Regions from separate parts of the Homo sapiens genome. Here all the other regions are reported to be linked to region 1. The links are microRNA targets in miRTarBase. Many come from high-throughput screens and were not tested one by one. Region 1 holds a microRNA gene; each other region holds the end of a gene's coding sequence.
What was found. The annotated mature microRNA hsa-miR-877-3p reads UCCUCUUCUCCCUCCUCCCAG and lies in region 1 at 2,543-2,563, shown strand. An mRNA with a match to its seed (bases 2 to 7 or 8) in the 3' UTR can be bound and repressed. Matches are read on the target gene's strand: a 7mer-m8 pairs with bases 2 to 8, a 7mer-A1 pairs with bases 2 to 7 and ends in A, and an 8mer does both.

Region 1 (7,116 bases):
ATACACATTCATACCATTTGTCTTGTACCATTCCTGGTAGCAGAAATTAATAAAGGACCTCAGGGAGACCAGGGGCTGGGTATGAGAATGAGAGAGGATCCCAAGATATTTTAGGACTCTGAGTAGTGAAGGAAAGAGCTGGGGCAGGGACAGGGGGCAGATGATGTGAAATCTGAGTTCTAGAAGGAGTCCCTAGTTTTTTTTTGTTGTTTTTTTTTTTGAGACGGAGTCTTGCTTTGTCACCCAGGCTGGAGTGCAGTGGCACGATCTCGGCTCACTGCAAGCTCCTCCTCCCAGGTTCACACCATTCTCCTGCCTCAGCCTCCCGAGTAGCTGGGACTACAGGCGCCCGCCACCACGTCCGGCTAATTTTTTGTATTTTTAGTAGAGATGGGGTTTCACCATGTTAGCCAGGATGGTCTTGATCTCCTGACCTTGGGATCTGCCCGCTTTGGCTTCCCAAAGTGCTGGGATTACAGGCGTGAGCCACCGCGCCCAGCCAGGAGTCCCTAGTTTTGACCATCCCCGGGTTCTCACAGGGTTCAGAGGAAGAAGGAGAAGGGGAAGAAGAGGAGGAGGAAGGAGGAGAGTCTAAGGCAGATGATCCCTATGCTCATCTTAGCAAAAAGGAGAAGAAAAAGCTGAAAAAACAGGTAAGACCTTGGTTCTTAGCGGTCAAAAGTAGGGGATTTTTAAATACTTCAACTAGGGGACATGCGATTGGGGACACGAAGGAAAGGTTTGGGGGCTACTCCAAGTAAAACAATCGGAGTAAGAAAATAATTGTGTTCTGTGAACCTTATCTCAATGTCTGATGACATGGGCTGTTTCACTTTGGGGTTTTTTGTTTATTTTTTGAGACAGGGTCTCACACTGTTACTCAGGCTGGAGTGCAATGACGTGATCTCTGTTCACTGCAGCCTCAACCTACCAGGCTCAAGTGATCCTCCCACCTCAGCCTCCCGAATAGCTGAGACTATGGGTGGCACCACCATGCCTGGCTAATTTTTGTATTTTTTGTAGAGACAGTATTTTAGCATGTTGGCCAGGCTGGTCTCAAACTCCTGAGCTCAAGAGATCCACCTACCTCAGCCTCCCAGAGTGCTGGGATTACAGGCGTGAGCCAGCATGCCCAGCCAGCATGGGCTGTTTCATGGTGATGGGAAACTGGTAGACTGTGGCTTCAAATGTAGTTTTTCCTACCTTCTCAGATGGAGTATGAGCGCCAAGTGGCTTCATTAAAAGCAGCCAATGCAGCTGAAAATGACTTCTCCGTGTCCCAGGCGGAGATGTCCTCCCGCCAAGCCATGTTAGAAAATGCATCTGACATCAAGGTAAGGTCTCAAGGGGCCCCTTCCAGTCCACTTACCTAGGGAAGAGCCAGTTCTCTCATCTTCCCTGAGTGGCTGTGGTGTGTGAATGGGTTAGTTCAGTGGGAAGAAAGATTGGAGGCATTTTCCACACCTTAGGTTCTGCCAACTTGAGCAAGAAGATAGAAAAACCAGTAGAAGTGGGGTCCACCCTTGGCAGAAAATAGTGTGGGACAGACTAGACTAGCTGAGGATGCATGGGGCTCCCATTACAGGCAGCGAACAGGGCGGGGACCGGCTGTGGGGAGAGGAAGGGGATTATGCTGGAGGTAGCGGTTTGTCAGAGGCTTCCCTGCAGGGAGAAAGTGGCCGCTCCTGTCCCAAAGGGAGAATTTTCATGTGATCATCCCTTCCCTCTGCCACCTCTTTCCTGATGGCTGCAGCTGGAGAAGTTCAGCATCTCCGCTCATGGCAAGGAGCTGTTCGTCAATGCAGACCTGTACATTGTAGCCGGCCGCCGCTACGGGCTGGTAGGACCCAATGGGTGAGAAGAGGAGGGAGCTGGAGGCAAAAAAGGGCCTGGAGGGAAAAGAAGAGATTTCTCAGTGGTGGCCAGGTCCTAATAGCTTTTATTCCCCAGCAAGGGCAAGACCACACTCCTCAAGCACATTGCCAACCGAGCCCTGAGCATCCCTCCCAACATTGATGTGTTGCTGTGTGAGCAGGGTGAGACCACTGGGGAGAAAAGGGGCTTGGTGGGGTGGGCAGTTGGGTAGAAAAGCCAGCCAGCCAAGAATAGAAGAAATTGTGGCTATGGAGTTGGAAGGGATGTGGAGGGAGACTGGAGACCGGGAAAGGGATGCTAAGGAAAGGAGGGGAGGGTCAATGAGGAACTTGAGAGTGTTTTATTTGGAACAAGTACAAAGAGCTGGGCAGGGTCAGGCAAAACAGAAATGTAATTGAAGGGAAAGAAAGATGAGACTCTTGGCTCTTGAGGCTGCCTGACTGTTCTCCCTCTGCCTCCCAGAGGTGGTAGCAGATGAGACACCAGCAGTCCAGGCTGTTCTTCGAGCTGACACCAAGCGATTGAAGCTGCTGGAAGAGGAGCGGCGGCTTCAGGGACAGCTGGAACAAGGGGATGACACAGCTGCTGAGAGGCTAGAGAAGGTAGAGGAGATGGCGCAGGGGACACGGGCAAAGACTTGGGGGTTCCTGGGACCCTCAGACGTGTGTCCTCTTCTCCCTCCTCCCAGGTGTATGAGGAATTGCGGGCCACTGGGGCGGCAGCTGCAGAGGCCAAAGCACGGCGGATCCTGGCTGGCCTGGGCTTTGACCCTGAAATGCAGAATCGACCCACACAGAAGTTCTCAGGGGGCTGGCGCATGCGTGTCTCCCTGGCCAGGTGGGCCATTCACCTCACTGCCCTCCCTTCCAGCCTCAGACCACCGGGGCCCTTTTCCTCTTTCCCTTCTCATTCTTCCAAGGCCAATAGGGAGGCTCAAGGCTTACCTCTCCCTCCTTACTATCTGTGTTGTGAGAACTTAGGGTCTTTCTCTATTTATCTCCCTACTTGGTGGTGAGTTCTCATCAACATACCCTGCAGCTGGGTGCAATGGGTCACGCCTGTAATCCCAGCACTTTGGAAGGCAGAGGCAGGAGGATTATCTTCAACCCAGGAGTTTGAGACCAGCCTGGGCAATATAGTGAGACTCTATCTTCACAAAAGGGGGAAGAAAACATATCCTAGCCTGGGCAACATAGGGAGACCCTGTCTCTACAAAAAATTTAAAGATCAGCTGGATATGGTGGCGCACGCTGTGGTCACAGCTACTCTGGAGGCTGAAGTAGAAGTATCACTTAGACCTGGGAGATTTAGACTACAGTGAGCCCTTATTGTGCCACTGCACGACAGCCTGGGCAACAGGGCGAGACCCTGTCTCAAAAAAATTAAACCGTATCCTGCCCGAGAACTTCTCTGAGGAGAGCTTGGGAAGGAGTGTTCATGGTCTCAGGCTCTATCTCCGAGTTTTCTCTGGGGTTGTCTGAGCAAGGATCTTTCTCTCCCTGACCCTGCCCTCTGCTACCCACCCTCTAGGGCACTGTTCATGGAGCCCACACTGCTGATGCTGGATGAGCCCACCAACCACCTGGACCTCAACGCTGTCATCTGGCTTAATAAGTGCGTTACGGCCTTTGCATCATTGGTTCCCATTCTGCACTTTCTTCCCCTTCCCTCCCTGCCCTGTTTTCCTTTAGCCCTTCTCCACTGTGCCTGTGAGTGGAGCTCTATTCAGACCCCCCTTTCCCTCCCAGCCCCCGTTGTCTGCCTGCTTCCTCTGAATTCTCTCTCACTTGACCACTGTGACACTTACACCCTGTTCTCTGAAACCCAGCTACCTCCAGGGCTGGCGGAAGACCTTGCTGATCGTCTCCCATGACCAGGGCTTCTTGGATGATGTCTGCACTGATATCATCCACCTCGATGCCCAGCGGCTCCACTACTATAGGGGCAATTACAGTAAGTAGGATTGTGTGTGGATGCAGGGAAGAGATAGAACCTCGAAAAGAGGCCTGAGTGGGAGGGCCTATTTAGATAAACTGAATCCTGTCAGAATTCCAGACAGTGATGCCTACCCCATCACCACCAGTCCCTGGTTGTCCCTTTGCTGGGAAGAGGAGCAACCACTGATGCCTGGTCCCCTCTTCTGCCCCAGTGACCTTCAAAAAGATGTACCAGCAGAAGCAGAAAGAACTGCTGAAACAGTATGAGAAGCAAGAGAAAAAGCTGAAGGAGCTGAAGGCAGGCGGGAAGTCCACCAAGCAGGCGGTGAGCACCTGAGGGACTTCTGGGCTGGGGGCCACTGTTCTCTCCTGGCAGTGGAGGAAGAAGGAGACTCTGGAACGCTGGCCTACATTTCAAGGACTGCCGCGCAGGGCTCAGGTTTCTCTTTTTTCCTCTTCCTCTCCAGGAAAAACAAACGAAGGAAGCCCTGACTCGGAAGCAGCAGAAATGCCGACGGAAAAACCAAGATGAGGAATCCCAGGAGGCCCCTGAGCTCCTGAAGCGCCCTAAGGAGTACACTGTGCGCTTCACTTTTCCAGACCCCCCACCACTCAGCCCTCCAGTGCTGGGTCTGCATGGTGAGTGCCGCGGGCCTCTGCTGCTCCACAGGAAGCACCGGAAGCATGTATGTGCACCCTAAATTCTCCACCAAGGCTGAGATTGCTCCTGTTCTCCAAGGCCAGCACATGAGAGGGACTTTGCAGGGACTGAAAAGAATATAAATTGCTTCTTTTCGTGGCTTTCAGGTGTGACATTCGGCTACCAGGGACAGAAACCACTCTTTAAGAACTTGGATTTTGGCATCGACATGGATTCAAGGAGTGAGTTGGCGGGGTTGCCTCAGGGATGTGTAGCAGGAGCCACAGGGAGAGTCTCTGGGGACCTCTTTGACCACCTGTCTTCCATCTTGCAGTTTGCATTGTGGGCCCTAATGGTGTGGGGAAGAGTACGCTACTCCTGCTGCTGACTGGCAAGCTGACACCGGTGAGTCCTGGAGCCAAGGAGGGAGAGCATGAGAAATGTGAAGACACAGCTGCTTTTGCCAGAAGCTGGAATCAGGGAGCCTCTCGAGAATGTAGAGTTAAATACAGAACTCATGATAGATGATTCATTTCCCTAAGAGGGGCAGTAGAGGAGGAAAGAGCTTAGATCAGTTCAGGGGGGAGAGCTAAGAGAATTAAGATAGAACTAGGGGGCACACCCACGTGTTTTGGTTATACAAGAAATATATGTCTTTTATAGAACGATTAAAAATTGCATAAACGGGCCAGGCACAGTAGCTCACTCCTATAATCCCAGCAGGGATCACCTAAGGTCAAGAGTTCCAGACCAGCCTAGCCAACATAGTGAACCCCGCCTCTACTAAAAATACAAAAATTAGCCGTGTGCGGTGGCGCGCACCTATATCCTAGCTACTCAGGAGGCTGAGGCAGAATTGCTGGAACCTGGGAGGCGGGGGTTGCAGTGAGCTGAGATTGCACCATTGCACTCCAGCCTGGGCAACAGAGCGAGACTCCATCTCAAAAAAAAAAAAAAAAATTGGCCTGGCGTGGTGGCCCACGCCTATAATCCCAACTCTTTGGGGGAGGCTGAGGCAGGCAGATCACTTGAGCTTAGGAGTTAAAAACCAGCCTGAGCCCAGTGTGGTGGCTCACACCTGTAATCCCAACACTTTGGGAAGCCGAGGTGGGAGATCACCTGAGGTCAGGAGTTTGAGACCAACATGAAGAAACCCCATCTCTACTAAAAATACAAAATTAGCCAGACGTGGTTGCACATGCCTGTAATCCCAGCTATTTTGGGAGGCTGAGGCAGGAGAATCACTTGAACCCAGGAGGCAGAGGTTGCAGTGAGCTGAGATTGCGCTATTGCACTCCAGCCTGGGCAACAAGAGCAAAACTCCGTCTAAAAAAAAAAAACAGACCAGCCTGAGCAACATGGTGAAATCCCATCTCTACTAAAAATACAAAAATTAGCTGGGTATGTTGGTGCACGACTGTAGTCCCAGCTACTCGGGAGGCTGAGGTAGGAGAATTGCTTGAGTCCAGGGGGCAGAGGTTCCAGTTAGCCGAGGTCGTGCCACTGCACTCCAGTCTAAGTGACAGAGTGAGGCTCTGTCAAAAAAAAAAAAAAAATGCTTAAGTCAAGAGAAAAATCTGGAGATAACCAGTTTTTTTTTTTTGTTATTTTGTTTTGAGACGGAGTCTCACTGTCGCCCAGCCTGGAGTGCAGTGGTGCGATCTTGGCCCACTGCAACCTCCACCTCCCAGGTTCAAGATATTCTCCTGCCTCAGCCTCCTGAATAGCTGGGATTATAGGTACGCCCCACCATGCCCAGCTACTTTTTGTATTTTTAGTAGAGACAGGGTTTCACCATGTTGGTCAGGCTGGTCTCGAACTCCTGACCTTGTGATCCGCCCGCCTCAGCCTCCCAAAGTGCTGGGATTACAGGCGTGAGCCACCGCTCCCAGCTGAGATAACCAGTATTAATGTTTTAGTGGATATCTTTCTCCTTTTTTCTTTGCAAATGTGCATATAATTTTTAACAAAAATGGGCTGTCATATGAGTTGTTGTGTAGCTAGATTTTTCCAAATATATCAAGCATTTTTCCATGCAATTACTTATTTCATATGAGTCTACCTTTTTTTTTTGAGACAGAGTCTCACTCTGTCACCCAGGCTGGAGTGCAGTGGCACAGTCTTGGCTCACTGCAACCTCCGTCTCCTGGGTTCACGCGATTCTCCTGCCTTAGCCTCCCGAGTAGCTGGGACAACAGGCGCGTGCTACCACGCCCAGCTAATTTTTTGTATTTTTAGTAGAGATGGTTTCACCGTGTTAGCCAGGATGGTCTTGATCTCCTGACCTCATGATCTGCCTGCGTCGGCCTCCCAGAGTGCTGGGATTACAGGTGTGAGCCACCACGCCCGGCAAACTCTACCATTTTATTTGAACTTTTGTAATATATTGCCATCTAGTGTGTTAGAAAGTTTGTAGCCATTTCTGCTCTCTCTAGCAGTGTTGAGAGGCCATTTTCTCATATCCAGAGATTAGATCTTTAGAAAGGTATTATTAGATTCTCCCCAAAACACTAAACTTGCCACATGAGGCCCTTACGATGTACCATTCGTGAGTCTCGCTGTATGGAGAGCAGGTGTTCTTTGGCTGTGGTTAGTCCCTCCTGCTTGTCCCTCTTGTCCTCCATTTTGCTTAACTCCCCTTTTGTCCCTTAACTCTTTTACTTT
Region 2 (7,116 bases), not on the chromosome of region 1:
GGTTGAAGGAAGGTACTACAGGGAACTCATAACAAGCAGCTACAAATATGTTGTAAGAAATGACAGCATCGCCAGAATCAGTGACGACCTCCCAGTGAAATATCACTAAAGGGCACAATGCTTGGTTAAAGTCACAGGTATAAATTTTAATATATATGAAGTATAAAAATATGTTCTATATAGTGTGTGTATACATAGATATATCTCCTGCTGCATCTGCTTAAAAAGGGAAATTGACATGGTTTTAGGCATCCCTAGCACAATTCCTGAAGCAGAGAGTCACGACTACAAAATGATAATAATGGCTAGCCTGTGTGGAAAGCTTGCTATGTGCCAGACACTAAATGATTTACAGGGATTTTTTCATTTAACCCTTGTTACCAGGGCTGGGACCAGGGTGGGGCAATGAGATATCGGAGCACAAAAGTGAAGGAGGGCCGGGCACAGTGGCTCACGTCTGTAATCCCAGCACTTTCGGAAGCCGAGACAGGTGGATCACTTGAGTCCAGGAGTTCAAGACCAGCCTGGCCAACGTGGTGAAACCCTGTCTCTACCAAAAGTACAAAAAATTAGCCAGGCACCATGGCACACACCTGTAGTCCCAGCTACTAGGGTGGCTGAGGCAAGATAATTGCTTGAACCCAGGAGGCAGAGGTTGCAGTGAGCCAAGATCAAGCCACTGCACTCCAGCCTGGGCAACAGAGCGAGACTGCATCTCAAAAAAAAAAAAAAAAAAAAAAAAAAAACAAATGAAGGAGACAGCCACCTGCGGGGCTATGGAAGTGCAGGGTTGACACCTGCATGCCCCTGCCAGCGAGTGCCTCCTTCGGTTCTGCACCCTAAGTGCCTCACTCACCTTAACCTAGTCCCAGACTTGCTGGCAACAATCCTGTAAGGTCAGTGTCGTCAACTTTCTTCTTTGCAGATGAGGAAGCAGAAGCTTTTAGAGGCTGAGTATCTTGCTTCATGGAGCAAGGATTTGATGCCAGGACATTGGGCTCTAAAGCCTTGGGCCTTGACTGACTGTACCAGACTCCAGTGTTGGTTGTTTTTGTCTCCCTTTCCAGGTGTCCAAGGCAGCTGCAGATTTGATGGCCTACTGTGAAGCACATGCCAAGGAAGACCCCCTCCTGACCCCTGTTCCGGCTTCAGAAAACCCGTTTAGGGAGAAGAAGTTTTTCTGTGCCATCCTTTAAGTCTTTGAGAGGGGCCTGAAGAGCCTCCGGGCTCCTGGGACATTGATGTAGAGTTTTTAGTGAAGTGGGCACCTTTCTAGTCCACGGCATTTGAAGAGAGCGAGGAGAACCATTCTGGAAACTCTAGGCTATGCATGTTTAAAGATCTGGTCCCCTTTATGAGAATGCAAGCCGATCCACATCCTGACTTAAGAGATCTGATTCTGACGAACTGCCTGGAGGAGGGGAATATATAAAAATAAAATTGGTGTCACTTCTTTTCTGCTATCCCCCAGCCCCCCCCCCAAAATCCTCATGTTTCTGCTTCATATTTTGAAAAATAACAATTAAAACAGACAGCTGTACTGAGGTAAGATATGTGTGACCTTCTTGGAATGAATATTGTCTTTAGAATACCCTTTGATAAGCTGAGCTGTCCCGTGTAGATGCAATTCGGTTTAATGGCATTGATGTATAGTCACTGTGCCTTTCTTTTTCTTTCTTCCTTCTCCTCTACCCCTCCTTCCACCCCTCCCCATTAGAGTAGTGTGGAGATAAGGCTGGACTGGTCTATCAGATTGAACTCCAAGAATGATCACACAAAATGTTTAGGGAGATGTTCCCCGTGGTGTATCCTCATGGTAACAACGACAAAAAATGCCGGTTGTCTGTGTTCTCTTTTCACTATTCCTAACATGTGTACATGATAGCTTTGATTCTGCAAGTAAAAGTAAATCCTGTGTTGTGACTGGTGCTTTCATATATTTGTGACAATTTTTGAGTAATATTGCATGAAAATGTCCCTATGTTACATCCATTCAGAAGTTTTGTTGTTTTACTCTAAAGCTGGGAAAGGAAATGAGAGGGAAAAGACCCCGGAGAGGGAAGAAAATCTCAGTATTTTGAAAATTGAGATTACTTCAGAGCCTTAGCCACACCTAAAATACCTCCTAGTTAATAGTGGTATAAATGCCTCTTCAATACGTTTTCCAGAATCCAAAGCATTTTGGTTTATCCAGGACCCAGGGCAGCACAGCTGTCACCAAGCAGGAGAGTTAAGGATTCACCATGAGCTGGGAAATGCTTTTGCCATGAGTATGAGCAAATTCCCTCTTTCCCTGAATCATGGACATTCTAGATTAAAAGAACATTTTTTTGTGCTCTTAACAAGAAAACCATGGCCCTCCTTTGTTCAAGTATCAGAAGAAATAAACCCACAGCTCCAGAGAAGGTGACCATTCTCAGAACTCCAGCTATTCACTCTCCAGGGAGAAGGACCTCAAATCGCCACTCTTTGGGCGGCAGGTGCGGTCCCCACGGCCGGCTCTACGAGGAAGAGTTCTGGCTCTTTTGTCCACTGAGATGGTCTTGGTTTTTCACTTAACAAATTTTTTAATGGAATCTTTGTTTTTGTTCTCCATCTTGTTTGTTAGAGTCTCTCGGCCTTTATTTACAAATTCCTTGCAACTAGAGCGCTCCTTCCCCAAGATATGGTAGTGAGAGTAATTTTTCATTGTAGCTGTAGTCTCCATCAGTAACAGCAGGCCCTGGAAGACTTGATCACCTTTTTCTGTGTCATTTTCAGTCAAAGAGGGCCTCTCTTACATCTTGTTTGCTTTCAAATCCCCAAATATCATCTCCATCTCCCAATTAATTTTATTGTCTCTTTCCTCTCTATTCGCTTTCTCCTGTTTTTTTTTTAAAAAAAAAGCATGAAAAAGGAAGAGAAAAAGTTTGATATGCCAAGGACAGATTTTGAAACAGACTTGGTAAATGTTTTCCTTAGCTCCTTCATGGGCATGCTGGTGAAAGAATAAATACATCCAATTAAAGCTCATGCTGGGGTCGGGGAGAAGAGGATACTGAAACATTTGTGAAATGTATGAATGCACTTCTGTAACCAGATACTTCTGTTCTTCTGTTCAAATTGTGGGGTTTTTGTTACAGTTAGGACGCCCATGAAGATTTAGGGGTGAAAAAAACAGCAGAGTATTTATTAAACTACAGCATTGTACAATTAGCTTAGTAACACTATGGAATAAGCTAAAACATATCACAGTTTTTACATGGGCCAAAACATGAATTGAGTATGTGGTCACATGAAAACACGGATGAATGAATAAAACACTCTTTGGTGGTGACTGAGGCATCATTAGAAGGCCCAGACGATTTCCACTATTCACAGCATTTCCTTTTCTCAGAAGGACTCTTTATATTTCCATGTAAATCTAGATCTTTGGAGCAATTAAGATGGAATTACAATTTCTAGGGAGCATTTTAAGGAAAATGTTTTGGCTTTTTCATAATTTTATGTCTTACAGTATGGAATTATAATACGAAAATCTTTATATGAGTTTTGGCTTCTTGGTATTTGTACTTATTCAGGGGAAAAAGTCTTTCGATTACTTATGCCTCTATAGAGCTTAATTTCTTGAGAAATTCAACAGTCATTTTCACCAGCATAATTTTATCTTAAGGAATAACTAATAGGAAAAGTCAGCTTAATTATTTAAGGCCCTAGTTTCTACATATAATATATTCGATAGAAATGAAAATCTGCCGTGGAATTAACTAATAAGTAGTAACAATAAACTTCATATTTAGAATGCAAAGTCTATAAAGAATAATTTTACATGATCCTCAATATCAACTCCAGTTTAAAAAGTGTTATTTTTAAAACATTTGAAACCAAGTACTGTTTAATTTCAATCAGAAGATGCAAATACATACTTTGATCTATGTTTGATTTTGCTAATAATATTTGAAGGAGATTGCCTACCAAGGACAAAACAATAAATTTAAAAATCAAACGATTTCTCCATACGCTCATAGTCACATATGGAATTTTGAGAAAATAAAGCATGCTGTCTTTAGGAATTTTTATACTTCTTTGTCTTTCTTCCTTAATATTTGCTTCTAGCTGCTCTTGGCAATGATGAATTGTTATGTATGCATTAATGTTTTGCAGCCCAAAAGTTGTTCACATTTTTCCTATATAAGATCTGTGGAGTGTGTGTTTCAAAGAGAGAACTACAGAAATGTTAAAGCAGGAAAACCTGAATGTGATGTGCACATTTTCATCCCACATGGACAATGTATGTGTTTTAATAAATGGAATTTTCAGATTCATTTCATATGCAGTCAATTTCATTGTGACGGCCACTGATTCTGTGGTCAATTTGAGAAGGATCTGATGGTATGAATGGATGAGGAAATAGGAATCCATTGATTTTCTTTAGGATTTTGTTAATAGAGATGTCCGAAAGAAGAAAAAACTCACTTGACACTCTAAAAGCATTTCTTACTAGGTCTGTACATCTTGGGTACAGCCTTTGGGGACAGAGAAAGGTGGGGGCTGTGAGGAGAGCCCAGGGCTCTGATAGGGTGGAGTATGCAGACAGAGGAGCTGTATTTACACTTTCACTTGCTGCAGGTATGCCACAGTGGGCTTTTTCCCTTATGAAAAATAAAGACTGAACAACAGAAGTGCTGTTCTCTGTAGCTATCTGTGATTTAAAAGGAGTACAGGAGAAGCTAAGTCCTTAGAACTCTAGATGCAGCTGCTCCTTGGAGATCTTCTTAGTCGAGAAAGACTTCTGAATGTTCCTCAGATTATGCCAGTAACAGACCCTGTTAGTAAAGAAGGAAACACTGGATCTCCTGGGACTTGTGCCAGCAACAGCAGCATCTTTAAACCACGGATGAAGGGGGCCACTTGGAGTTTGCACACTAGTGCTCCACTGACATCAGTGTTTCTCAGACTGTGGTCCATGGACCACTTGCTCCAGGAGTATTAATACCTGGAATGCCTCTTTACAAAGCGGATCCTGAGCTACCCACGAACTCAGAATCCCTGGCAGTGACTCAAGAACGTGCATTCTGTTACATGCTATAGTCTGAGGACCACTACAGTATTTATGACAGCTAGCTTTTCATACTGCCAAAGGAAAGGCACAAACAACTCATAAATATTCTCGCTCTTCTTCCCACAGCCCCCAGAAGTGGCTGCCTAGGCATGAACATGTAACTGAAGGGTGAGAATCTAGCCAGCAACTAGACATGCTACACTGAGGAAGACGCAGCTGGGCTGTGACTCTGCTCCTGTTTTGTTGAGCCCCTGTGGGAGGACTGCCTCCAGTTCTCATTCTTTAATAAGCTGGTCACATTGTAGATGGCACTTAGAATGACAGAGGGAATTGGAGCTGGGTCAGCTCCAATCCACAAATTGCAAATAATTTGCCAAGGGAAATCCCTTTCCCTTCGGTTCTGCCCCAAATCTACATTTTCTTCTATTTAGAACCAGGAGACTCAGGCAGAATTTATTTTAATGAAGAAGGCCATGGGCTCCTGGGCCTTTCCTCAGCAAGAACTACTGCTGTTTCTCTCTGGAAGTCATAAGAAAAGCCGGGAGCCGGGTATTGCATCTCCACAATGAAGCAACAGAAAGACGGGGCCTGGGGAGCTCAGTCCACACTGTGCTCGAGCATTAGCATGCACTAGAGAACCAGAACTAGGCTCCAGCGCTCCCATGCGACCTTGGGCAAGTCCTTTGACCTCTCCTGCTTTAAAGTGGGTACAAGAATGCCTGATTCATTTATCTCACAAAATGGTTAAAAACAAATGAAAGAGGATGGGCACAGTGCTCACGCCTATAATCCCAGCGCTTTGGAAGGCTGAGGCAGGTGGATCACTTGAGGTCAGAAGTTCAGCCTGGCCAACACGGTGAAACCCTGTCTCTACTAAAAATACAAAAATTAGCCAAGTGTGGTGGTGGGCACCTGTAATCCCAGCTACTTGGAAGGCTGAGGCGTGAGAATTGCTTGAATCGGGGAAGCAGAGGTTGTAGTGAGCCAAGATCACGCCACTGCACTCCAGCCTGGGTGACAGAGCGTGATTCCATCTCAAAAAAAAAAAAAAAAGAAAAGAAAAATGAAAGAGGTAAAGGGGCATCACGAAGGCAGAGGTGGTAAAGAACCATTAGAAACTACTTGACGGCAACCTTCGAAGAAAGGAAACCGCTAGATAGCTCCTGCTCACCTCTTAACTCACCTCCTTTCTCTCTAGCCCCCAAATGCCCTGGTTGAGACCCTCAGTGTCTCATGTCTGAATTCCCATCACACCAGCTGGTATGGGCATTCTGATGCTCATCTCCTCCCACTTTCACCCAGTTGACCCTGAGTATTCATTAGTCAGGACTTCTTTGATTGCAAGTGACAGAAACCTAATGCCCCAAAATAGGTCCCACTTCAAGCCCAGCTGGATCCAGATGCTTAGAGGATGTCATGGAATGTCCCTGTCATCCCTTGGCTAGGCTATTCTCTGTGCTGGTTTAATTCTCAGACTCTTGCCCCGCAGCATCAAGATGGTGTCAGCAGGCCCAGGTTTATATCTCAACAGTTTAGTAATCAAGGAAGAAAGATAACAACAGCTCTAGCAGAAGCCTCTGGCTATATCCCTGGAACCCTTCCTAAGACACTATTGGCTAGATCTGGTTCCTGTGCTCGCCCACCCCTGGACCTAGGGATAGAGGTAGAGTCACTGGGCCATGTGGGCAGAACAGTGGTTCTAAGGAAATTGAAGTCCTTTTGCTACAGGAGGCAGGATTGAAAGTTAAAGGCAAAAAACAACTGATGCCAACCACATCTTAACAGATTTATTGATGTTACCTCATCTTTCACCATGTTCAGAAACCCAAGGTTCTCTGGTTCATGGTGCTCTTTGTCAACCACATCATGTCCAATCTCAACTACCTGGCTCTCAAGGCCCTTGAGAGGCCCCACTTGGCTAATCCCATCTTGCCATCCAAACCCTCTTTTCCAGTTCATCCTGTCTCCTTCAGTGTGCTGTGAGTTCATCCCACTTCCCTGTCTGCTGCTTTTTACATTTTTTTTAGACAGAGTCTCGCTCTGTTGCCCAGGTTGGAGAGCAGTGACGTGATCTC
Region 3 (7,116 bases), not on the chromosome of region 1:
GCTGGAAATTTTAAAATTTAAATGATTTCGAATGATTGAAATTTTCCATTTAGAAGAATTTTGACAAATAAAAAATATAACTGCATTGTAGCCCAAAACGAAGCATGCCTGCAGGTTGAATTTGACCTGTGAGGTATTTGTAACCTCAGAGAGATACAATGACAATTCTTTTCAGGTTTGCGTATATAGAGTTCTCAGACAAAGAGTCAGTGAGGACTTCCTTGGCCTTAGATGAGTCCCTATTTAGAGGAAGGCAAATCAAGGTAAGCCTATGTCCATTGCTGTTCTAGTTGTGTATAAACTCTCCAGGTTGCCTTTAAGGCTATCATTTGTTCATCTCTGACTCAGGTGATCCCAAAACGAACCAACAGACCAGGCATCAGCACAACAGACCGGGGTTTTCCACGAGCCCGCTACCGCGCCCGGACCACCAACTACAACAGCTCCCGCTCTCGATTCTACAGTGGTTTTAACAGCAGGCCCCGGGGTCGCGTCTACAGGTCAGGATAGATGGGCTGCTCCTCTTTCCCCCGCCTCCCGTGAGCCCCGTATGCTTCCTCCTCTCTGGTCTGAGGAACCTCCCTCCCCCCACCCCTCCCCGTGGTCTTCAGGAACTTTGTCTCCTGCCTGTGCAGGTTGAGGAAGGTAGTTGCAGGCCAGGCCAGAAGGCCAGCCTCATCATCTTTTCTGCAGTAGAAATTGGTGATAAGGGCTGCATCCCTCCCTTGGTTCAAAGAGGCTTCCACCCCCAGCCTTTTTTTTCTTGGGAGTTGGTGGCATTTGAAGGTGTTTGCGGACAAAACTGGGAGGAACAGGGCCTCCAGGCAGTGAAAGCACTGCTTGGACATTTGTTACTTTTTTCGGAGTTAGGGAGGGATTGAAGACTGAACCTCCCTTGGAAGAATACCAGAGGCTAGCTAGTTGATCCTCCCCAACAGCCTTGTGGGAGGATTTTGAGATACTTATTCTTTATTTGAGCCAGTCTTGCAAGGTTAACTTCTCACTGGGCCTAGTGTGGTGCCCAGGTTTTTGCCTTGCTTCACTTCTGTCTCTACATTTAAATAGACGGGTTAGGCATATAAACCTTGGCTTTTCATAAGCTCTACCTGCCTATCCCCAGGAGTTAGGGAGGATCTATTTGTGATGGCCTAGGGTTTAAGAGCTGTGGAGGACTGAAAACTGGATAAAAAGGGGGTCCTTTTCCTTGCCCCTGTCTCTCACTCAGATGCGCTTCTTTTTCGCCACTGTTTGGCAGTTTTCTGTTAAGCCCCCCTCCCCCTGCCCCAGTTCTCCAGGTGCGTTACTATTTCTGGGATCATGGGGTCAGTTTTAGGACACTTGAACACTTCTTTTCCCCCCTTCCCTTCACAGTAACTGGGGCAGGGGCCTACGGGGAGGGGCTTGTACTGAACTATCTAGTGATCACGTTAACACCTAACTCTCCTTCTTTCTTCCAGGGGCCGGGCTAGAGCGACATCATGGTATTCCCCTTACTAAAAAAAGTGTGTATTAGGAGGAGAGAGAGGAAAAAAAGAGGAAAGAAGGAAAAAAAAAAGAATTAAAAAAAAAAAAAAGAAAAACAGAAGATGACCTTGATGGAAAAAAAATATTTTTTAAAAAAAAGATATACTGTGGAAGGGGGGAGAATCCCATAACTAACTGCTGAGGAGGGACCTGCTTTGGGGAGTAGGGGAAGGCCCAGGGAGTGGGGCAGGGGGCTGCTTATTCACTCTGGGGATTCGCCATGGACACGTCTCAACTGCGCAAGCTGCTGCCCATGTTTCCCTGCCCCACTTCACCCCCTTGGGGGCTGCTCAAGGGTAGGTGGGCGTGGGTGGTAGGAGGTTTTTTTTTTTACCCAGGGCTCTGGAAGGACACCAAACTGTTCTGCTTGTTACCTTCCCTCCGTCTTCTCCTCGCCTTTCACAGTCCCCTCCTGCCTGCTCCTGTCCAGCCAGGTCTACCACCCACCCCACCCCTCTTCTCCGGCTCCCTGCCCCTCCAGATTGCCTGGTGATCTATTTTGTTTCCTTTTGTGTTTCTTTTTCTGTTTTGAGTGTCTTTCTTTGCAGGTTTCTGTAGCCGGAAGATCTCCGTTCCGCTCCCAGCGGCTCCAGTGTAAATTCCCCTTCCCCCTGGGGAAATGCACTACCTTGTTTTGGGGGGTTTAGGGGTGTTTTTGTTTTTCAGTTGTTTTGTTTTTTTGTTTTTTTTTTTTTTCCTTTGCCTTTTTTCCCTTTTATTTGGAGGGAATGGGAGGAAGTGGGAACAGGGAGGTGGGAGGTGGATTTTGTTTATTTTTTTAGCTCATTTCCAGGGGTGGGAATTTTTTTTTAATATGTGTCATGAATAAAGTTGTTTTTGAAAATAAAAATTGTTTGGCCTTTTGGGTGTAAGGATTATTTATCTTCCTATTCTCTCTTAGATCGCAGATGGCTATTAATTCTGCCTTGTGGTAGAAGTACTGGTGTTGTGGAAGGGAGGTTGCCACTTGTGAATTAAGGAGTAGGAATTACATTACAACTAGCAGGAACATTATGTGTTTAGTTGAGAATGATAGGTTTTCTGGATAACATGTAACCCTGATTGGCATTTGAGAGAGAAATAAGCCTGGGAAAGTAAAAGAATAGCTGAATTGGGCCGGGCATGGTGGCTCACTGCTACAATCCCAGGACTTTGGGAGGCTGAGGTGGGCAGATCACGAGGTCAGGAGATCAAGACCATCTTGGCTAACATGGCGAAACCCCACCTCTACTAAAAATACAGAAAATTAGCCTGACGAGGTGGCGGGTGCCTGTGGTCCCAGCTACTCGGGAGGCTGAGCCAGGAGAATGGCGTGAACCCAGGAGGTGGAGCTTGCAGTGAGCCAAGTTCACACCACTGCACTCCAGCCTGGGTGACAGAGTGAAACTGTCTCAAAATAAAAAAAGGAATAGCCGAATTACTGACCTAATGGCGCTTTTGTGTGCTCCTGATACAGCTTACGTGCAAATGAACTATCCATGCCTGCAGCCCTAGAGCTTTGGATTGGGGTCTGGGTAACCTTGTCTTTGGGGTCTCGCTATGTTGACCAAGCAATCTTCCCATCTTAGCCTCCCAAAGTATTGGGATTACAAGTGTGAACCACTGCACCCAGCTACCTTTTCTACCTCAAGGTGGGCCCAAGAAATGCAGAAGACAAAATACACTTAGCTAAGAGACAATCGGAAAGCTTGTTTTTCCAACCATGCAGTAACCATTTAATGTGTCCAGCTAACTTATATTAATTGGATCATTTATTTTTTTGAGATGGTCTTGCTTTGTCACCCAGGCTGGAGTGCAGTGGCTCACTGCAGCCTCAACCTCCCGGGCTCAAGTGATCCTCCCACCTCAGTGTCCTACATAGCTGTGACTATAGGTGCCTGCCTTCACACTTGGCTAATTTTTTGTAGAGACAGTTTTGCTGTGTTGCCCAGGCTGTCCCAAACTCCTGAGCTCAAGCAGTCCTCCTGGCTTGGCCTTCCTATAGGCGTGAGCCACAGCTCCTGGCCAGGATTAGTTTATTAGGACTTCACAACTGGCTTTCACTGTTTTCATATCTAAATTTTGTCTTGGGCATCCTAATTTCTCCATTTTTTATTCCAGTGTCAGATTGGTCTTAAAACTTGAACACTACATCACTAGCCAGGTTGAACCTTCAGACTTCATTACCTATAGAATTTCTTAGTATTTCAACCTTACTATTTTTTCATTTACTTCTCAGGATGTTTTGTTCACAATTGCCTCTGACCTGGATGCTCTTCAAAAATCATATGTTAAAGAAATGGCTCTGTGGCCGGGCGCAGTGGCTCACACCTGCAGTCTCAGCACTTTGGGAGGCAGAGGTGGGCGGATCACTTGAGGTCAGGAGTTTGAGACCAGCCTGGCCAACATGGTGAAATCCCGTCTCTACTAAAAATACAAAAATTAGCCAGGTGTGGTGGCATGCACCTGTAGTCCCAGCTACTCTGGAGGCTAAGGCAGGAGAATCGTTTGAACATAGGAGGTGGAGATTGAGGTGAGCTGAGACTCAGCCACTGCACTTCCAGCCTGGGTGACAGAGCGAGACTCTGTCTCAAAACAAACAAAACAAAAAACTCTGTTATATCTGAAGCCTTAACCCACCTCTCAAATTGCAGTATTTTCTAAAATCTCATGTCAGTGTTATCCACCACATATTTTAGGATTTGGTCATTTATTCTACTTTCTGTTATGGGTTAGGCATTTGAGGTCTATCTTTTCTCCTAACTAGATTCACCTAAAATAGTGCCGTGATCTCTGTGGCTTCTGCAGAGGCTGATTAGTGAGGGTCTGGATAGTGTTCAATATAAACTTTTTACTGGAAGAATGAAACAGCCTAAGTGACTTGTTGCTGTTAATGCTGTGATGGTCTCATCTGTCCACCAGGGGGCACTAAATGGCTGGCTCTAAAAGATCCCCATAAATTGTTGGGTATTGGAGGGTGAATCATGTTTTGACCCTTCTCTGGTTTAGTTTTCCATATTCAGTCAATTCTACCATATCTTGTCTGTTCTCTCTATTCCTACTTTCACTGCTTGAGTAACTCCCCATCATCATTGCAGGGGTCCTGGCAGATGTATTGGCTTCAAATTTTTTTTTGAAAAATAAAAATTCCTAAAAAAAGTACTTTAAAAGATAGGGTCTCGCTATGTTGGCCAAGTTGATCTTGAACTCTTGGCCTCAAGCAATCCTCCTGCCTCGGCCTCCCAAAGTGCTAGGTTTATAGGCGTAAGCTACCATGCTCAGCCTCCAAACTTCTTATTGCCAAAAAAAGCCCTCTATGATGCCACCAATAAGTACAAAGTCCAAACACAAGCATGGAACTACAACCTTTTTCAATCTGATCCTGATTACATTTCTCTTCCAGATCCTGCCCTACACCTGATGTACTATGCATTGTAGTTGTTATTTATTTTCATGTATCCCTCATGCTGTTCCCTCTAGCCTGCTATGCTCATTCCAACTCTTCTATGAAAATCACGCATATCCTTCCAAGTGTAAGCCAGGTACAACAGACATGAAGCCTTTCCTGATTTCCAAGTCAGAAGTAATCACTCCTGCAGTCAGGACAAACTGTTCCTATCCCTGTTTAATATTTACTTTGTGGTTTTATAATGAAACTAACTACATTTCTGTTTTCCCACTAGAATGCAAGCTTCTTCTTTTTTTTTTTTTTTTTTTTTTTTTTTTTTTTGAGACGGAGTCTCGCTCTGTCGCCCAGGCTGGCCTGCGGACTGCAGTGGCGGGATCTCGGCTCACTGCAAGCTCCGCTTCCCGGGTTCACGCCATTCTCCTGCCTCAGCCTCCCGAGTAGCTGGGACTACAGGCGCCCGCCACCGCGCCCGGCTAATTTTTTGTATTTTTAGTAGAGACGGGGTTTCACCTTGTTAGCCAGGATGGTCTCGATCTCCTGACCTCATGATCCACCCGCCTCGGCCTCCCAAAGTGCTGGGATTACAGGCGTGAGCCACCGCGCCCGGCCGAATGCAAGCTTCTTGAGGGCATCAATTGTGACTTTGTGTCTGCCTCACAGGGCCTGCCATTTAGTAGGTGCCCAAAAGTTGCTTATTCACCCTGGGCTTGCCTTTCCTGTCCTGGAGAAGGCGGTAACAACAATAGTGTTGCCTTTTACCTGGAGCTGGTAGTTTTCTTCCTCTTTTTTTTTTTTTTTCCTGAGACGGAGTTTCACTCTGTCGCCCAAGCTGGAGTGCAGTGGTGCCATCTCAGCTCACTGCAACCTCCACCTCCCAGGTTCAAGCAATTCTCCTGCCTCAGCCTCCTGAGTAGCTAGGATTACAGGCATGCGCCACATGCCTGGCTAATTTTTTGTATTTTTAGTAGAGACGGGGTTTCAACATGTTGGTCAGGCTGGTCTCGATCTCCTGATCTCGTGGTTAACCCACCTCGGCCTCCCAAAGTGCTGGGATTACAAGCGTGAGCCACCATGCCCGGCCTTTAGTTTTATTCTTATAAGAGTCAGACTATTTTACTTAAAAGAGACTAGGTTTAGAGGAAGAAGCATGGAAAGAAAGTTACTTTCCTCGGGCAAGCTTGGTTATTTTTGGTGGATGATTTCTGTCAGTCACTCCTGATCGGCTCTCTGTTAACTGAGGGATAGAAATGAGCCCAATCTCACTGGAGTTCCATGGGAAGAAAGAGACTGGGAGAGCCTGTGTATAAAACCTGTCTGGGGTGAGGGTCTGTGAGTCAGAGATCCTTAGAGGGCCTTTGGATGATGCAAAATAAACCGAGGCAAGCCAGTGCTTTTTAAGGTAGGATTTGCCCAATCCGACGTTGGCAATGGAGAAAAGAAACAGTTGGTGGGTTTTTACAATAATATTGCTGCTTTCCTTGTTTTTATGTATGGTTAGAATGAGCAGCCTTTCTCAAATTATGATCACATTTTATTATTATTATTATTTTTTGAGATGGAATCTTGCTCTGTCGCCTAGGCTGGAGTGCAGTGGCACGATCTCGGCTCACTGCAACCTCTGCCTCCTGGGTTCAAGCGATTTTCCTGCCTCAGCCTCCCGAGTAGCTGGAATTACAGGTGTGTGCCACCACGCCAGGCTAATTTTTGTATTTTTAGTACAGACGGGGTTTCACCATGGCTGGTCTTGAACTCCCGACCTCATGATCTGCCTGCCTCGGCCTCCCAAAGTGCTGGGATTACAGGCATGAGCCACTGCACCCGGCCTTATTATTATTTTTTAATGGAGACAAGGTCTTGCTCTGTTGCTCAGAATGAGCAACAAATTCATATCTCACTGAAACCTCAAACTCCTGGGCTTGAGCCATCCTTCCACCTTAGCCTCCCAAGTATCTGAGACCACAGGCACATACCACCATGCCTGGCTAATTTTTTGTTTTTTTATTATTTATTTATTTTTTTGAGATGGAGTCTTGCTCTGTCACCCAGGCTGGAGAGCAATGGAGCGATCTTGGCTCACTGCAACCTCAGTCTCCCGGGTTCCAGCAATTCTCCTGCCTCAGCCCCCCAAGTAGCTGGGACTACAGCCGTGCACCACCAAGCTCGTCTAATTTTTTTATTTTTTAGTAGAGATGGCGTTTCACCAT
Region 4 (7,116 bases), not on the chromosome of region 1:
GTCCACAGTCATTCATTCAACACCTACTGGATTGGGCCCCTTCTCTTGGACTGTGCCAAGCTAGGGGTGAATGGGAGCAGAGGCAGCGATGGGACTCAGTCACTTGCAGGAGAAGGACAGATAAACCAGAAAGTTCCTGGTAGGGACATTCCAGACTGGAAGCCCCACAGTAGCACAGGCTGCTGGGTTTGGGGAATGGTGAAAGGTGTAGTGGTAAAAGCAGTGGGGGCAATGTGACAGGGCATGAGGCCGGAGAAGTCAGCAGGGCTTCAGGTTCCCATGTCAACTCAATGGAGAAGGAAAACCAGGGAACTGGCTTGCACAATTGTAGGGGCTGATTAAGCAGTTTCTGTAAGGCTGTATCTCCAAGACTGACGGAGCTTGAAGTCCACAGGCAGGTGGTCAGGAGGGGAACACCATGAGCACATGAGCATACTGAAACCCCACTAGCACAGGGAGGACCCGTGACAACAGACTGAAACCTGTGTCTATTCTTTTTGTCTCTGACCTCACTGATGAAGGTAGAAGCTGGAACCCTTAGCCACAGAGCTAGACGTGCACACACCTGCCCCAGGAGTCAGAAAAAACTGAAGGAGAGTCCGGGAAAAGCACAGCAATTGCAGGTCCAGGTGCTGCTTCATGCCAATCAGGTGAGTCAGCAGATCAGCAGTCCAAATGGTTGCTTCCTTCCAAATCTGATGAGAATCTGCCTCCTGGCCCACCCTGATGGAAAATATACTAGTCAGGGAGTTCTGGAAAATATGGTTCAGCCAGGCCAAGTTGGCATGTTACAAAGCCCTCCCAATTCCACAGTTAAAAATGGGTGTGGGGGGTGGTGAGGAGGGCTTCCAGACCAGGTAGAGCATTCTAGCCAACTGGAAGACACAGACTCCACCTGAAGAGGGGCAGTGACTACCCAGCTCTTACTGATTGTTTTCAGAGCTTCCCAGTTTTCCAAATAATGTTAGAAGAAGCACCTCCTGAAAGTTTCCAAGTCCCTCTCTGGAGGCTGGGAGTGGTCTGGCCATGCAGGGAGGAATGGGGTAGGGTACCTCAGTGCAGCAGTGGTCCTACATGGGGCCTGGTTGTCGGAGGCACCTCCTCAAAATTTTTGAAAGTGGAAACTAAACTATTTTCTGAAATTTCCCATTATTTTAAAATATGGACTTAAAAAACACCCCATACCCATTAGAATGGCTACTATGAAAAAACAGGGCTGGGCATTGTGACTTACACCTATAATCCCAGCACTTTGGGAGGCCAAGGTGGGAGGATCACTAGAGCCCAGGAGTTCAAGACCAGCCTAGGTAATATAACGAGACTCCCATCTCTACAAAAAATACAAAAATTAGCTGGGCATGGTGGTGTGTGCCTTTAATCCCAGCTACTCAGGAGGCTGAGGTGGGAGAATCGCTTGAGCCCAGGAGATGGAGACTGCAGTGAGCCAAGATCGAGCCACTGCACTCCAGCCTGGGCAACAGAGCCAGACCCTGTCTCAAAAAACAAAAAACAAGCAAACAAACAAACAAAAAAAAACACAGAACATAGAAAGTGTTGGCAAGGATGTGGGGAAACTGGAACACTTTTGCACTGTTGGAAGGAATGTAAAATGGTCCAACCGCTATGGAAAACAGCATGGCAGTTTCTCAAAAAATTAAATATAATTACTATGCAATCCAGCAATTCCACTCATGGGTAAATGCCCCAAAGACTGGAAAGCAGTGATGAGAAGAGCACATCCATGTTCATAGTAGCACTATTCACAATAGCCAAGAGGTGGAAGCAGCCCAAGGGTCCATTGACAGATAAGTAGATTTTTAAATATGTGATCTACCCATACAATGGAATATTATTTGGCCTTAAAAAGGAAGGAAATTCTGACCCATGCTACAACATGGATGAATCTTGAGAACATTATGCTGAGTGAAAATAGCCAGTGACAAAAAGACAAACACTGCATGATTCCACTTAAATGAGGTATCTAGAGTAGTCAAATTCAGAGATAGAAAGTAGAATGGTGGTTATCAAGGGCTGAGGGGAGGGAAATATGGGGAGTTGTTTAACTTTCAGTTTTGCAAGATGAAAAAGGTTCAGAGATTGGTTGCACAACAATGTGAATACAATTAACAGTATTGAATGTATATTTTAAAATGTTTGGCCAGGCACAGTGGCTCACGCCTGTAATCCCAGTACTTTGGGAGGCCGAGGCGGGCAGATCACCTGAGCTCAGGAGTTTGAGACCAGCCTGGCCAACATGGGGCCAACAAACCCCATCTCTACTAAAAATACAAAAATTATCTGAGCATAGTGGTGGGCACCTGTAGCCCCAGCTACTCGGGAGGCTGAGGCAGAAGAATCACTTGAACTCGGGAGGTGGAGGTTGCAGTGAGCTGAGATCTTGCCACTGCACTCCAGCCTTGGGGGCAGAGCAAGACCTCTGTCTCAAAAAAAAAAAAAAAAAAAAAAAAAAAAAAAGGCTAAGATGGCAGATTTTATGTCACATGCATTTTACCAGAATTAAAAAATAAATATATATTGTATGGGCCAAACAAAATCACTGTGTGAGCTAAATGTGGCCTGAAGTCCCCCAGCTTTGAGATTTCACAACTGGATCTTCTATGAGGACACTTCTGGCCACTTCACAAGACAAGAAGCCCCAAATGATGATGTCCTGAAGGGGACTCAACCAAAGGTAGCCATACACTAGTGAAAGCCAGAGACCTATCTGCCAGTGCTGAGTGTCTACACCTGGGTAACAACCTCTCCATAGAGGGTTGTCATTAGGACCCCAGAGCCTTGCCCAGTGCACCTTATAAATATGCCCTCCCAGAGGCTCCTTTTCTTGCTCGCCTCTTCTTGGCTCTCCCAACCCCTATCCTTCTTCTGGCTGCCTTGGTTAGGGACTGTGAAAGACTCTGCCTTTTACAACTTTCTGTGGTAGGACAGGGGTTTGGATGGTGCGGTGGTTCACACCTTTAATCCCAGCACTTTGGGAAGCCAAGGTGGGAGGATTGCTTGAGCCCAGGAGTCTGAGATCAGCCTGGACAACATAGTGAGACTCCCATCTCTACAAAAAATATGAAAATTAGCCGGGTGTGGTGGCATGCGTCTGTAGTCCCAGCTACTTGGGAGGCTGAGATGGGAGAATCACTTGAGCCCAGGAGGCAGAGGTTGCAGTGAGCCAAGATCGTGCCACTGCACTCCAACCTGGGTGACAGAGCAAGACCTTGTTTCGGAAAAAAAAAAAAGTTCTGTATGTACTGAGGACCCTCTCAGGCAGACAGTACTCAGAGGAGCCTGAGCCAAAGCTCCTATCCCCAGGGAATGAGGTTCAACCCTTCCCATCACTTGTTCCTCACTCTGGTTGAGAAGAAAGAGGCCCAGGTAAGAATGGGGAGCTCCTACAGGCCCAGGTAGGAATCTAGGAGTCTGAGACCTCCCTTACTGCCTCTGGTTCCCCCCACGACACCCACCCTCCAGACTCTTCTTGGCTACAAGCAAGATCTCATCCAACTTCCCCAAGCTGATACACTACTCCCAAGCCAGGAGTCCCGTGGACTTGTCCTTAACTTACCTATGTCAAGCCATATGCGCTTGCCTGGGTCTGTTTCCACCTCTATACAAAGCAGGTTTGGCTTTAGGCATACAAGCCTTGCATGAGACAATGGATCAAGATGGACTTGCAGACAGGACTGAGGGGCAGGCACCTGTATCCATCAGGACCAGAAATCCCAGGGACCCTCTGCCTCCTCTAAGGCTACAGTGCAGGGAAGCATACCCTTAAGACTTAGAGCCAAGCCTGGTCACTGCTAGAGGGTGAAAGGGAGGGAGGTGGGAAGGACTGCTATCTGGGAGCCAAGCAGAGGGGCCAGATGGCCACATCCTAGGCCTGCCCCCACCTGCGCCAGAGATTGGTAGAGGGCCTGGCTCCACCTGGCCACACCTAGACAGGCAGGTGGGAGCTACCCTGTTTGGTCCAGATTTGACTAAGAACAAAAGACGGGAAGATGTTCCATTGCTCTAGTAAGCAGGATTAAATGTTGGCAAGGTGGGAAAATGAAGATTCTTATGCCCCTGAAATATGTGAAAATTTGGAGAGCAATTTGGCAATACCTAGTAAAGCTGATGACTTAGAGAAAAAGAAGTTGCAGAATGCCCAAGATGATACCATTTATGTAAACCTGAAACTCATAAAATGATACTGTATGCTCTCAGACATAAGGATTTGCTTTTTTTTTTTTTTTTTTCTGAGACAGAGTCTCACTCAGCTGCCCAGGCTGGAGTGCAGTGGCGTGATCTTGGCTCACTACAACCACCGTCTCCCGGGTTCAAGCGATTCTCTTATCTCAGTCTCCCAAGTAGCTGGAATTACAGGCACCCAACGTCATGCCCGGCTAATTTTTGTATTTTAGTAGAGACAGGGTTTCACCATGTTGGCCAGGCTGGTCCTGAACTCCTGGCCTCAGGTGATCCACCTGCCTTGGCCTCCCAAAGTGCTAGGATTACAGGAGTGAGCCACCTCGCCCGGCCAGGATTTGCTTCTAACATCACGTTTATATGAAAGTATAAAAACTTGAATGAAAAGGAAACAAGCCCCTGCAGGCATTATATTCTTTCATGTTAAAATGAAAAGACCTCACCAAACTAATTTGCAACCATGAGAAACAGTGGGGAGATGATAATGAAAAACAAAGGGAATTTCATTTTTGTCATTTATTAACCTGGAAGCAAATATGACAAAACAGTCATACTAGTAAGTCATCTGAATTTTTTAAATCTCTTAATAAAACAACCAAATCCCACGCAAATCAGTCCACAAGGGAGGCCCCCGCCTCCACAGTGCAGGGTGACTGAGTGTACAACTACGGGCCAACCCCCGCCTCTCAACCGGAAGGGAGGGCACTCAAAAGAGGAATTTAGAGAAAAGGCGGAGAGGGCGGACCTCGGGAAAGGGTCTGGGCGGGAGCCCCACCTGGCTCCCCACCCCTCCCGAAACCAGGGGAAAAGCCTGTGGCGTGGCGCTGCTGTCTCCCATTAGCAGTTACAGGGCCGAGGCTTCCCGCTGATTGGTGGAAATTCCGATCTTCTGATCCCTGATTTGCATAGAGACTGGGGCCTGCACCCCCGCCCCCCACCAGCAGCAATCGGCCAACGCCAACGGTGCTGCGCCAGGAGCGTTCTGGGCTCGGCGCCGCCCAGTCCTCCTGGTCATCTCGGAAGCTGTTTTCTTCCAGCTGCTTGGGACAGCTTTTGTGAATGCCTCCCTTAGGGATGTTCGAAAGAGGAGTGGCCCGACACTGCTAGAAACTGGTCCTTTCCTTCCCACCTGTGGTAAGGATAGTTTCTGCTACGGCAAGCACTCAAACTCAGGCTGGTTTGAAGCTAAAGGATTCAGACGACTTCCAAGTATCAAGAATGAAAGAAAAAGAAACATAATAAGGAGCCCACCACCAAGACTTGTAGTTATTTCCTCAGAAAGCCCCCATGCCCCATTTGTGACAAAATCCATTCCTGAAGACTGATTCTAGAAGAAACCAAGTAAGATCTAGAACTTTCCCCACCAGCATCACTTTCCAAAATGTAGGCAGAAGTTTACCAAATACAATTTATTCAGGAAAAAAATAAATTTTAAGAACTTATTTTTATTTTATTTTAGAACTTAAAAATAAATTTTTAAGAACTAAAAAAGTGAAAGAGCCCAGTGGCTGAGCAGAAAACAGCTTACTACAAGGAGTACCAGATCAGGGCAGAGACTTCCCAGCTGGGTAAGGCATGCTTTGAGGGAAGACTCCACCAGCCCTGCCAGGAAAGGGCAGCAGGCGCAGTGCCCCTATGGGGCCCACATGGCTGGTAACAGCAGCAGGACACCTCTTCCAAAGCTGTCCACCAGCCCCACTAGGGGCTCCTACTCATGGCAAAAAAGACTACATGAGCCCACAACTGTCAACTAACACAGTGCCACCTCCTCCCAAAGCAAACACATATACATACAATGTTAAGAACCTATTATCAGAACAGCAGTGCAGCAGACCCTGGCCTTGGTCTCTGAAAGTCCTGTGTCACTGGCTGTAAGGACGCTTGGCCACAGGTTCCTCCTCCTTCTCCCGCTTCAGCCATTGCTCTAGGAGTCCTGCAGTGCCTCTCTTGGTGGGGAGTGGACTCTTCTGCAGGAACTGACTGGACCACTGGGGAACATCTGACTCTTCCTTTTGAGGTGTTTTTGAGTCTTCCTTTTTGGGTGACTTTGTGGCCAACCACTGCAACATCCTCTGGCTACTGCCACTTGCCCTGAGCTCCTACAAGAAAGAGGAAAAAGCTCAAACCATACAGCTCAAGCTTTTGGGAAAAGGCCAAGTCCAAGGGAAGAAACAGGGGAAGAGGCATTAGGTACTTACCCAGGCTTGGAAAATGTTACTAAGGGCCAGCTGGGGCCCACCAGTCAAGAGTGGAAAGAGAGGAGTGTGCTCTAAGGGGCAGGAAAGTAGATCTTAGAGAAGGTTTCACAGAGGATTGTGTGGGACCAGCCAGAGAAGAGAGCTGAAAGGCATTCCAAATGTGCAGAGAATGAAGCATTCTCAGGGAAAAGAATGTAATTCAGCATGACCCAGGGGGAGTGTTGGAAAACGAGACTGGAGAGATACAGAAGAATTTCTAACAGCCACTGTGATAAGGCTAAATTGTTTCCTCTTTGTGCAGACAATCTGTACAACCTCTTCTTGACTGTCACTACTCCCTTCTGCTTCCTTTACATCACACCCCAATCCTGAACTGAAAGGTTCTGAATTAGCACAATGCCACCTCTCCAGAATGTGACATCTTTTGGAGTAAACACCATGGCAGGGCTAGGTACAGTGGTGCATGCCTGTAATCCCAGCACTTTGGGAGGCTGAGGTGGGAAGATCGCTTGAGCCCAGGAGTTTGAGACCAGCCTAGGAAACATAGGAAGACCCCATCTCTATAAAAAATTTAAAAAAATGAGCCAGGCATGGTGGTGTACGCTTGTAGTCCCAGCTACCTGGGAGGCTGAGGTGGGAGGATCATTTGAGCCCAGGAGTTCGAGGCTGCAGTGAACTATGATCATGCCACTGCAGTCTAACCTGGGCAACAGAGCATGAC

Region 2: the mRNA of GNG2 is a reported target of hsa-miR-877-3p. Seed matches in the 3' UTR shown: 8mer at 3,028-3,035.
Region 3: the mRNA of PABPN1 is a reported target of hsa-miR-877-3p. Seed matches in the 3' UTR shown: 7mer-A1 at 1,532-1,538.
Region 4: the mRNA of HMCES is a reported target of hsa-miR-877-3p. Seed matches in the 3' UTR shown: 7mer-m8 at 5,868-5,874.

Annotation. Positions count from the first base shown.
Region 1 is chr6:30,581,855-30,588,970 of GRCh38, forward strand. MIR877 (microRNA 877) reads left to right here and starts at 2,478; the gene lies at 2,478-2,563. ABCF1 (ATP binding cassette subfamily F member 1) reads left to right here. Exons shown (of 25, transcript NM_001025091.2): 9 at 540-653; 10 at 1,212-1,334; 11 at 1,754-1,854; 12 at 1,951-2,036; 13 at 2,338-2,477; 14 at 2,564-2,712; 15 at 3,406-3,489; 16 at 3,704-3,828; 17 at 4,025-4,137; 18 at 4,280-4,451; 19 at 4,620-4,694; 20 at 4,787-4,857.
Region 2 is chr14:51,965,492-51,972,607 of GRCh38, forward strand. GNG2 (G protein subunit gamma 2) reads left to right here. Exons shown (of 4, transcript NM_053064.5): 4 at 1,068-4,304. The coding sequence ends at 1,196. Among named protein-coding and RNA genes, the nearest start is that of RTRAF, 20 kb to the right of the region's middle.
Region 3 is chr14:23,323,790-23,330,905 of GRCh38, forward strand. PABPN1 (poly(A) binding protein nuclear 1) reads left to right here. Exons shown (of 7, transcript NM_004643.4): 5 at 176-263; 6 at 349-500; 7 at 1,458-2,374. The coding sequence ends at 1,497. BCL2L2-PABPN1 (BCL2L2-PABPN1 readthrough) reads left to right here. Exons shown (of 8, transcript NM_001387346.1): 7 at 176-263; 8 at 349-2,374. The coding sequence ends at 510. Among named protein-coding and RNA genes, the nearest start is that of PABPN1, 5.9 kb to the left of the region's middle. RefSeq lists a silencer at 4,404-4,493.
Region 4 is chr3:129,303,769-129,310,884 of GRCh38, reverse strand. HMCES (5-hydroxymethylcytosine binding, ES cell specific) reads right to left here. Exons shown (of 7, transcript NM_020187.3): 7 at 4,699-6,296. The coding sequence ends at 6,060. Among named protein-coding and RNA genes, the nearest start is that of H1-10-AS1, 8.9 kb to the left of the region's middle. RefSeq lists enhancers at 563-622, 4,743-5,327 and a cis regulatory region at 4,763-5,263.